3 separate regions of the Homo sapiens genome follow, and regions 2 and 3 are each linked to region 1. Evidence: fine-mapped expression QTL. A gene starts in region 1. Each other region holds a variant in brackets. All regions are shown on one strand. Distances are from middle to middle. Region 1 holds the start of DOK4 (docking protein 4). Region 2 overlaps CCDC102A (coiled-coil domain containing 102A). Region 3 overlaps CIAPIN1 (cytokine induced apoptosis inhibitor 1).

Region 1 (2,671 bases):
CCTTTCTTCCACCACCACCAGCCTCCATCTGGCTGGACCTGGCTCAGCTTCCAGAGGTGCGTGAGCCACAGTGGGCTCCCAGCTCCTGGGTCTCAGCGCTGACTGGCATGGCCAGCAGGCTGTTGTTACTGGAGAACCAGCTGTGCCCAAGACCCGCAGTTTGGTTCAGAGCTGCCTCAGGGAAGAGCATGCTGCTGACATCGAGGCCAGGCCTAGTTGGGCGGCCCCACCTTGGCCAGGGTTGTGGGGTGAGGTCATGCCCAGCCCTGCTGCCCTGCCCAGGAGGGAAGTGCTGGGAGTAACCAGTACCAGCACAGCAAGGCAAGCAACTGGGGAGAGGAGGCACAGCTCCTGGGATCAGAGTTGGGGGTGGGGGCAGGAAGAGCCTGTACCAGCGCCACATCCCTCTGAAAGGGTCCAGGAAAGAACCTGCCCTAAGCAAGCCCACCTCACACTGCCCAAGTGGAGTCTCCTAGAGATACTGCCAGGCCCCTCGCTGCCCTGGCCATCAGACCCCTCCAACCCACACCCTCCATCCAAGCGGAAGCGCCCCAGCAACTGACGTGTCCCCATGGCTTGGGGCAGGCAGGCTGCACAGAGCCCCTGCTCTGCCACATCACCCAGGTGCCCAGCCTCGGCTCATGCCCCTTTTCAGTAATAGAAAGCATGTAACTGGATCTAGGGCCTTGCGGGCCCTGGGGGAGAAGGTGGACAGGACCTTGGGGGCCAATGGAGAAAGGTTCAAGGACAGGAGGCAGCTGGCCATGAGTTTGGGCTGTGGGGAGAAACCCCATAGGCAGGAGGGGGTCGGCAGTGGGGGCCAGCTGGGGTACAGAAAATCATCTCTTGGAATTTGGAGGAGGTGAGCGAACAGGAGGCCCCGGGGAGGAGCAGGAAGGCAGAGAGAAGGTTGGGAGCTGCCAGGGGCTGGGTTATGCCCCTTCCGGGGGGGCAGGCCCGGGAGCGCAGGGCCTGGGTTGCTCGGATGAGGTTTGTGTGGGTGCGGGTGAGGTCAGCTCGCGACCTGGGCTCCCCCGGAGAGGAAAGCTGCGGGTGGAGAGAGCGCAGGGAGTTTCAGGGCCCAGGCACTGGCTTTTGGGGGGCGGGTCTCTAAGCTCCCCACCCGAGAGTAGGAAGGTCCCATGGGACGGAGCGTCCTCAGGTTCAGGAAGTGACTGAGGGTCCTCAGGGGTGGGAGTCGCCGAGACTCTTGCAGGCTCTGGGCGGCCTATGTCCCCCTCCCTGCCTCACGCCCCCCAATTTACCTGGGCGCCGAGGCCCGGGCCAGGAGCGCCTGCTCAGCGGCGCCGCGGAGCAGGCTCATGCCCGCGTCACGGCGCGGCTGGCGGGGGCGGCAGGGCGGCGGCGGCGCCGGGCTCCAGGCGGGGACGGCGAGGGAGGCGCGGCCGCAGGGCTAGGGATCGGGCTCCGGCTGGGGCTCCGGCTGGGACTCCGCTCCGCTCCCCCCTCCGCCAGGTCTCGCCGCTGCGCCCCGCCCCCTGCCCCGCCCTGGCGGCCGGCCCCCGCCGTATTCCTCCGAGCCGCGGGACGCGCGATTCTGCCCTGGCGCCCTGGCACCCCCGCACCCGCTTCAGGTCGCCCCCGGTACCCCCAGCTCATTCCCACCGCCCCTCCCTGGGCCCCAAAGCCCACATGGCCTCTCAGCCCCTGAAAGCTGAACTCCACATCAGCTCCCAGCCCCCACATCTCAACCCCTTCACTTCTTCAGGAATCACATACACACCCATACGCCACATCAGCTCCCAGCCCCCATATCTCAATTCCTTCACTTCTTCAGGAATCACATACACACCCATTGCTCCCCTAACCCCATCATGACTCTCTGGGCCCTCACAGCCCAGCTCTCCCAGCCCCACAGTGACCTCCTCTGCTACCCCTCCTCAAGTAGCCGCACCAGCACCTCTGTCTTCCCTGGTCTCCTCTCCACCCTCAAAACATCCAGTTCTCCCATTCTAGGTCCCCCTGAGACTTTGCCCTCAAGCTCAAACTTCATTCCCCTTCATTGCTGCCCCCACCCAGCCCCCAACCCCCTCACCTCTGCCCTTCGGGCCTGTGCAGTGGTTGACTCACTGATCTGTCGGAATCCCCAGTCACAGGCCTCAGCTGTGCCAGGCAGGGACAAGAGAAGTTGCCCAGTGCCTCCTCTGGGGAGGAGCTGTCCCCCCTCTGGTTTTCACGTCTGTACCTTTTTACACCAGGGCTTCTCAAAGTGTAGTCCCTGGACCAGAAGCTTCCCATCACCTTGAAACTTGTTAGAAATGCAAATTCCCTGCCCTACTCAGACCTATGAAATCAGAATTTTTGGGGGTTTCCAGCAGAAATGTGTGTTTTAACAGGCCAGGTGATTCTGATGCACACGAATGTGTGAGAACCACTGCTTTAGACCATATATACAAAACAAAACAATAGGCCACCTGAACAGCCAAAATCCTGAGAAATGAAAATACCTCCACATCCAGCTACTGTCCAGGTGTCTCAGAGGAATAGGCCTAAAGCAGTGAGGGACCAAGGATCCCAACACCCACCCATGGAATGCATGCCCCTGCCCCGGAGACGCCTGGGCCTCAGCCTTGCCCAGGGAGCTTAAAAGGAGGCTGCCTCTGGATGTCTGAAAATTTCCCTGATGGTCATTGTGGTGTCTGTGATCAGC
Region 2 (2,500 bases), 27 kb after region 1:
GCCGATGCCGTCCCCCACAACCCCCGCCCACATCTGCCATACTTTCAGATGCCCCAAGAACTTGAACTTCATTTATTACAAATAACTGGGTTCACTGCATTGTATGATGAACAGCGAAGCCTAGAGAGGCAGCCCAGGGTGGGGCTCCAACAACTGCCCCCAACATGCCCAGCCCTGCATGAAGTCCTGGGTGGGTGAGGTCATCTGGACTGGGCCTTGGAGCTGTCCTGTATTTATAAAACCAAATGGGTCCAAAGACTTCTGGGTGTGCGCGCGCGCGCGCGCGTGTGTGTATATATATATATAAAACATAGGCTTCCTTTCCACAGGGCGTTGGTAGGTGGGACTGTTGACGCCATCCCTGGGAGAGAAGAAAGTCGGCTGTGGCAGGGACTGGTCCCAGAGTGAGCCTAGGCACTGCATCAGTTTGAGTGGCTGGTTAGCCTGGACCCTGGGCAGGTATGGGGCGGCCCATCCTGCCCAGCCACAGGAAGCTCTAGGCCACCTGGATTTGCAGGTCCTCGTCCTCGTCCAGGTCACTGGTTCCATCCTCGGCCTCCTCGGTGCCAAAGCGAGCACTGCGGATCTTCCCGAAGAGGGGAGCGTTCTGCTGCTGCCTGCGGAGCCTGTGGGGTGGGGGTGACAGGAGGTTAGAGCAGCCTGGCTGGTAGTCCCCCGATAAGGTGGCTGCAGCTGGTGCTGGAGCAGTTAAGCCTTCCCTGGTGCTTTCCCTGCTGTCTCATCTCCTGTAATCTCCTTATATGATAGAAGTGCCATTATCACCCCCATTTTACAAGCAAGGAAACCGAGGCACAGAAAGGTGAAGTCATTTGCTCAAAGTCACACAGATGGTGGGGAGTGGGGCAGAGCTCTGAACTGAAGTGGGTGGTGCCAGAGCAGCTGGGCGGTTAGAGAGGTGAAGGAGCTGGCTCAAGGTCATGCTGCAGGATTTGAACCCAAGCCTGGCTCTCAGAGCACAGGCAGCAGAGTTGGTTGGTGTGACAGTGCAGGGTGGGCTGAGCCCTCTACATTCCCAGTGTCAGTGAGAAAGGGCTCAGCCCTAGTTCTTCCTCACATTAAAATTCCTAAAGTCAAAATTTACGAGGAAAACTTTGAGTCTAAGAAGAGCTGGTGAAGGAAATGCCGATCCCTCCCCCAACCCCCCAGCAAAGTGGCCGCCCCGGCTGCATCTTACTGGAAGACATGAATTATTAACACGTAAGGGAGGG[G/T]CACAGGCGGGGGCCTCCATTACTGCACAGTGATTTAGTGAGCTGTCCCCGGAACATTAAAGCACAAAAAGTTGGAAAATAAAACGACACAGCGGTCCTGGGTGGCCCCACCCTCCCCGATGGAAGCACTTGAGAGGCCCAGCAGGGCCTGCCTGCCCACTTCTGGAGTTTATGGCTCCTGAACAATGTGACCCAGACTGCGGGAAAGCCCCAAGGCTAAGTGGTCTTTTGAAGGGTGTGTGCTGCAGGGTCAGAGCAGGCAGAGCCAGCCAGGCATGGGTCCTGACTTGGGCCCACGCCTGGGCCCCTGCACAACACTTTATGGGCGTCATCCCAGGCAGATGGGGAAATCGAGGCTCAGTTTACCATGGCACAATAGCTGTTAGGTCTCTGCAGCCCATTCTCTAAGCCACAAGATCTCAGCAAACAGCAGCATATAGTAAATGCTCAATAAATAAGGGCTTGGATGGCTGATGGCCAGGGGTGATTCTGCCTGGCCACCCACCAACTGTGTGGCCATGGAAAGACTTACCCTCTTGGGCCTTAGTTTCCTCATCTGCCAGCCCCCTAGGAAAAAACATCTTTCCTTTCTCTCATAGAAGCAGCGTGATGCTGATGCACAACATGTAACCCAAATATAAGCCCCTCCGCAGCGGTAGTAGTAACAGTAGTAATAGCAGCAGCTGCTGACAATCACTCAGCATTTATTATGTGCCAGGTGTTTTCTTTCTTTTTTTCTTAGAGACGGGATCTCACTTTGTCTCCCAGGCTGGAGTACCGTGGTGTGATCACAGCTCACTACTATAGCTATGAACTCCTGAGCTCAAGTGATCCTCCTGCCTCGGTCTCCCAAGTAGCTGGAACTACAGGCACACACCACCATGCCTGGCTAAGTTTTGTATTTTTTGTAGACATGGGGGTCTTGCTTTGTTGCCCAGGGGGTCTCAAACTCCTGGTCTCAAGCAATCCTCTTGCCCTGGCCTTCCAAACTGTTGGGATTACAGGTGTGAGCTACCATGCCTCCAGGTACTTTCTTAAGAATGGATCAGCTCATTTAATACTCACAACAATCAAGAGGTAAGAACTATCATCATCCCCATTTTACAGATGAAGAAACTGACACAGAGAGGTTAAATAAATGTCCCAAGGCCACACAGCTGCTAATGCTGAGCCAGGCTTCAGACCATTCAGGCAGTCTGGCTGCAGAACCGGGCACCCTCTATTCCACGAAAGAAGAGAATGCAACTAAGTGCATTCTCAGGGCCCGGCAC
Region 3 (2,843 bases), 57 kb before region 1:
AATCCACCAGCAGGGACTAGGATAAGCAAAGCAAACTTGGAGAATCAAATCAAGTTTCAAGGACAGATATCAATGAAAACTTTTATTTACTGGTAAAATATAAAAATCCAGGTCTCTTAAATCCACACAATCTCTCCAAATATTTGGCAAGATTGATTCCAAGTCCATATGGGTGGATAACAAGAACAAAGGGGTCTCTGCTCAGAGAGACGTATTGTCGTTCAGAGTTCTGCCCTGCTTCCCTCTAAATGCTCACCAACCTGGACTCTTCTAAAGTGGGCAGACAAGCCCTATTCTAAGCGTAGGAATAGCCCCATTTGTGCGTGACACTAAGTTCCTCCAATGGTCCAAACTGAGCGTGGATGACTATCCAACATCACACACAAATGCACATCCCCTCTCTTTACAAGACATGCAGAATCTCAAGATATGTCAAGATATGCAGCAAGTTTAATACCTGAAGGTTAACATAAATGACAACAGGACACAGATGCAATGCTACAGTCAAATGTGGTTGGGGATGGAAGGGGGCAGAGGGACACTGGATATCATCACAGCAACCAGTGAGTGAGTCCTCTGGTGCCCTGAGGAGGTTGTGAGCCACTTGACTCGTGTCACAAAGAATGGAGTAAACTAACAACTCTGAAAGACAAGAGGGTGGCAGCATTGCTGAGATGAGACTCAAGGCAGGGGTCTGCAGCTCTGTCACAGAGTGTTAATGCTCAACGATGCCTGGGCTCAAGAGCGTTCTGGTCAGCATTTTAACATCAGAAGAAGGGCTTCTTCAGGACACACTCCCTTCTCTTAACATGAGGTGAAGAAACCCATCCCATTCTGAAACCAGGTCCCATAATACCTTGGTCTTTTGATACACAGCAGCACTACACACCACTGTGCCCCCCAGCCAGCTTCACTCTGTCTGCTAAGCACCCACTCTGCAAACAGATCTCAGAGTGAACAAATCCAGAGGAGGTGGGAGGAGCCACCATGGTGGGATGTGAGGGACAGGAGTTGGCTGGAGGAGCAGATGGGTCCCATGTCAGGAACCTCCTAGGCATCATGAAGATTGCTATCACTCAGAAGCACCTTTTCCCCAGGTTTGAAGGCTGGCATCCCAAGGTAGGGGCAGCTGGCACAGCGGAAGGCATCGCCCAGGTAGCACTGGAGAGAGAGAATGGGGAAGCCAAGGGTCAGCTTATCCCAGGCATACCAGCCAGAAGAAAGAAATGCCTAATTTCATAATGTGGCCACAGTGGCCTGAAGGAAATGGCTATGTTTGCAGGTCCAATTGAGACCAAAATACTAAGAGTTTTCAAGATTTCTGGTTTCGTGAAAAACTATAGTCATGAAAAGTTCCCTAGGAGGCCATAGTTCTTTTTTTTTTGTTTTTGAGATGGAGTCTCCCTCTGTCACCCAGGCTGGAGTGCAGTGGCGCGATCTCAGCTCACTGCAAGCTTCGCCTCCTGGGTTCCCGCCATTCTCCTGCCTCAGCCTCCCAAGTAGCTGGGACTACAGGCGCCCGCTACCATGCCCGGCAAATTTTTTTGTATTTTTAGTAGAGACGGGGTTTCACC[A/G]TGTTAGCCAGGATGGTCTCGATCTCCTGACCTCGTGATCCGCCCTCCTTGGCCTCCCAAAGTGCTGGGATTACAGGCGTGAGCCACCGCACCCGGCCTTTTTTTTTTTTTGAGATGGAGTCTCCCTCTGTCACCCAGGCTGGAGTGCAGTGGTGCGATCTCAGCTCACTCCACCTCCCAGGTTCAAGTGATTCTCCCGCCTCAGCCTCTGGCATAGCTGGAATTACACACGTGAGCCACTGCGCCCGGCCATAGTTCTATATTCTATGCAGTTCAAAACACAACCAACTTTAGCTAACTGTCTAACCATCAGGTCCCACTCTGAAGTACAAAGAAATGGGCCAAAAATAAAAAGCAACAAGACCCTCCCTGACCAGCACAAGCACGCTAACCCACTCTCACTCTCAGGAGACAGCCTCTCTCCCCATTACTACCTACGTTCGTGTGCTCACGCATTCGTCTGTTACTAAAATATTTGAGGTGGAGCTTGTCTGTGTTTAGTTTAGAAGAAGGTCTAATCCCCCTGGGGGTTTGTGAATGCTGAGGAATGATCCTGATATTTACGTTTCCACAAGCTGACTTGGGTTGGGAGCTCATCTGTTCCCTTGACTTCTCTTTTTCCAGTTCTTCGGCAAGGCCACAGGTGCTGCGGGAAAATCAGTAACTAATGAACGAGAATTGTCACCACCCAGAAATCCCAAATCCTAACAGTGCCAAAATGTGCTTTAAGCCTTTTCTCTTCACACCAGTGTCATAACTCAGAAGCCTATAGGCCAGGCAGACAGCAGCAATATGAGAGGCTGCTGAGGGAGACAGAAGTGGGAGGAGGATGAGGGAAGTACCGTGTGTGCTCTGTCTACAGAGGGCAGCCACTACTCAAGCTTCAGCTGGTTATCATGCTGGGGAAAGTGGACCCAGATTGCCATATTTTCCAAATTCAAGAACAGAAGGGAAAAAAATCTGTGTTTTCACTTGAAATTTCCTGATTTGTAAATGCTGGCAGCTTTTACATTTAAAAAACACTGATGATTAACGCTGATGATGAACATCACTGATTAACTTTCTACAATCCTTCCCATCCATTTATAAAAACAAATGTGAAGACACCAAGGTCTCGCTCTGATGCCCATGCTGGAGTGCAGTGGCACAATAGTGGCTTACTGGTAGGGTTTTGAGGGAGAGTGAAATTAGATACATGGCACAATTACGGCTCACTGCAGCCTCGACCTCCCAGGCTCAAGTGATCCTCCTGCCTTTGCCTCCCAAGTA

The links.
Region 2: its variant is fine-mapped to the expression of DOK4 in lung (TOPMed, PIP above 0.99).
Region 3: its variant is fine-mapped to the expression of DOK4 in whole blood (TOPMed, PIP above 0.99).

Annotation. Positions count from the first base shown.
Region 1 is chr16:57,485,040-57,487,710 of GRCh38, forward strand. It overlaps DOK4 (docking protein 4), which reads right to left and starts at 1,454. Exons shown (of 9, transcript NM_018110.5): 1 at 1,266-1,454. RefSeq lists an enhancer at 707-1,503 and a silencer at 1,335-1,634.
Region 2 is chr16:57,512,245-57,514,744 of GRCh38, forward strand. CCDC102A (coiled-coil domain containing 102A) reads right to left here. Exons shown (of 9, transcript NM_033212.4): 9 at 1-626. The coding sequence ends at 497. Among named protein-coding and RNA genes, the nearest start is that of CCDC102A, 23 kb to the right of the region's middle. The variant G/T (reference allele first, on the strand shown) is at 1,230.
Region 3 is chr16:57,428,120-57,430,962 of GRCh38, forward strand. It overlaps CIAPIN1 (cytokine induced apoptosis inhibitor 1), which reads right to left. Exons shown (of 9, transcript NM_020313.4): 8 at 2,139-2,220; 9 at 68-1,161. The coding sequence ends at 1,051. Among named protein-coding and RNA genes, the nearest start is that of CIAPIN1, 18 kb to the right of the region's middle. The variant A/G (reference allele first, on the strand shown) is at 1,575.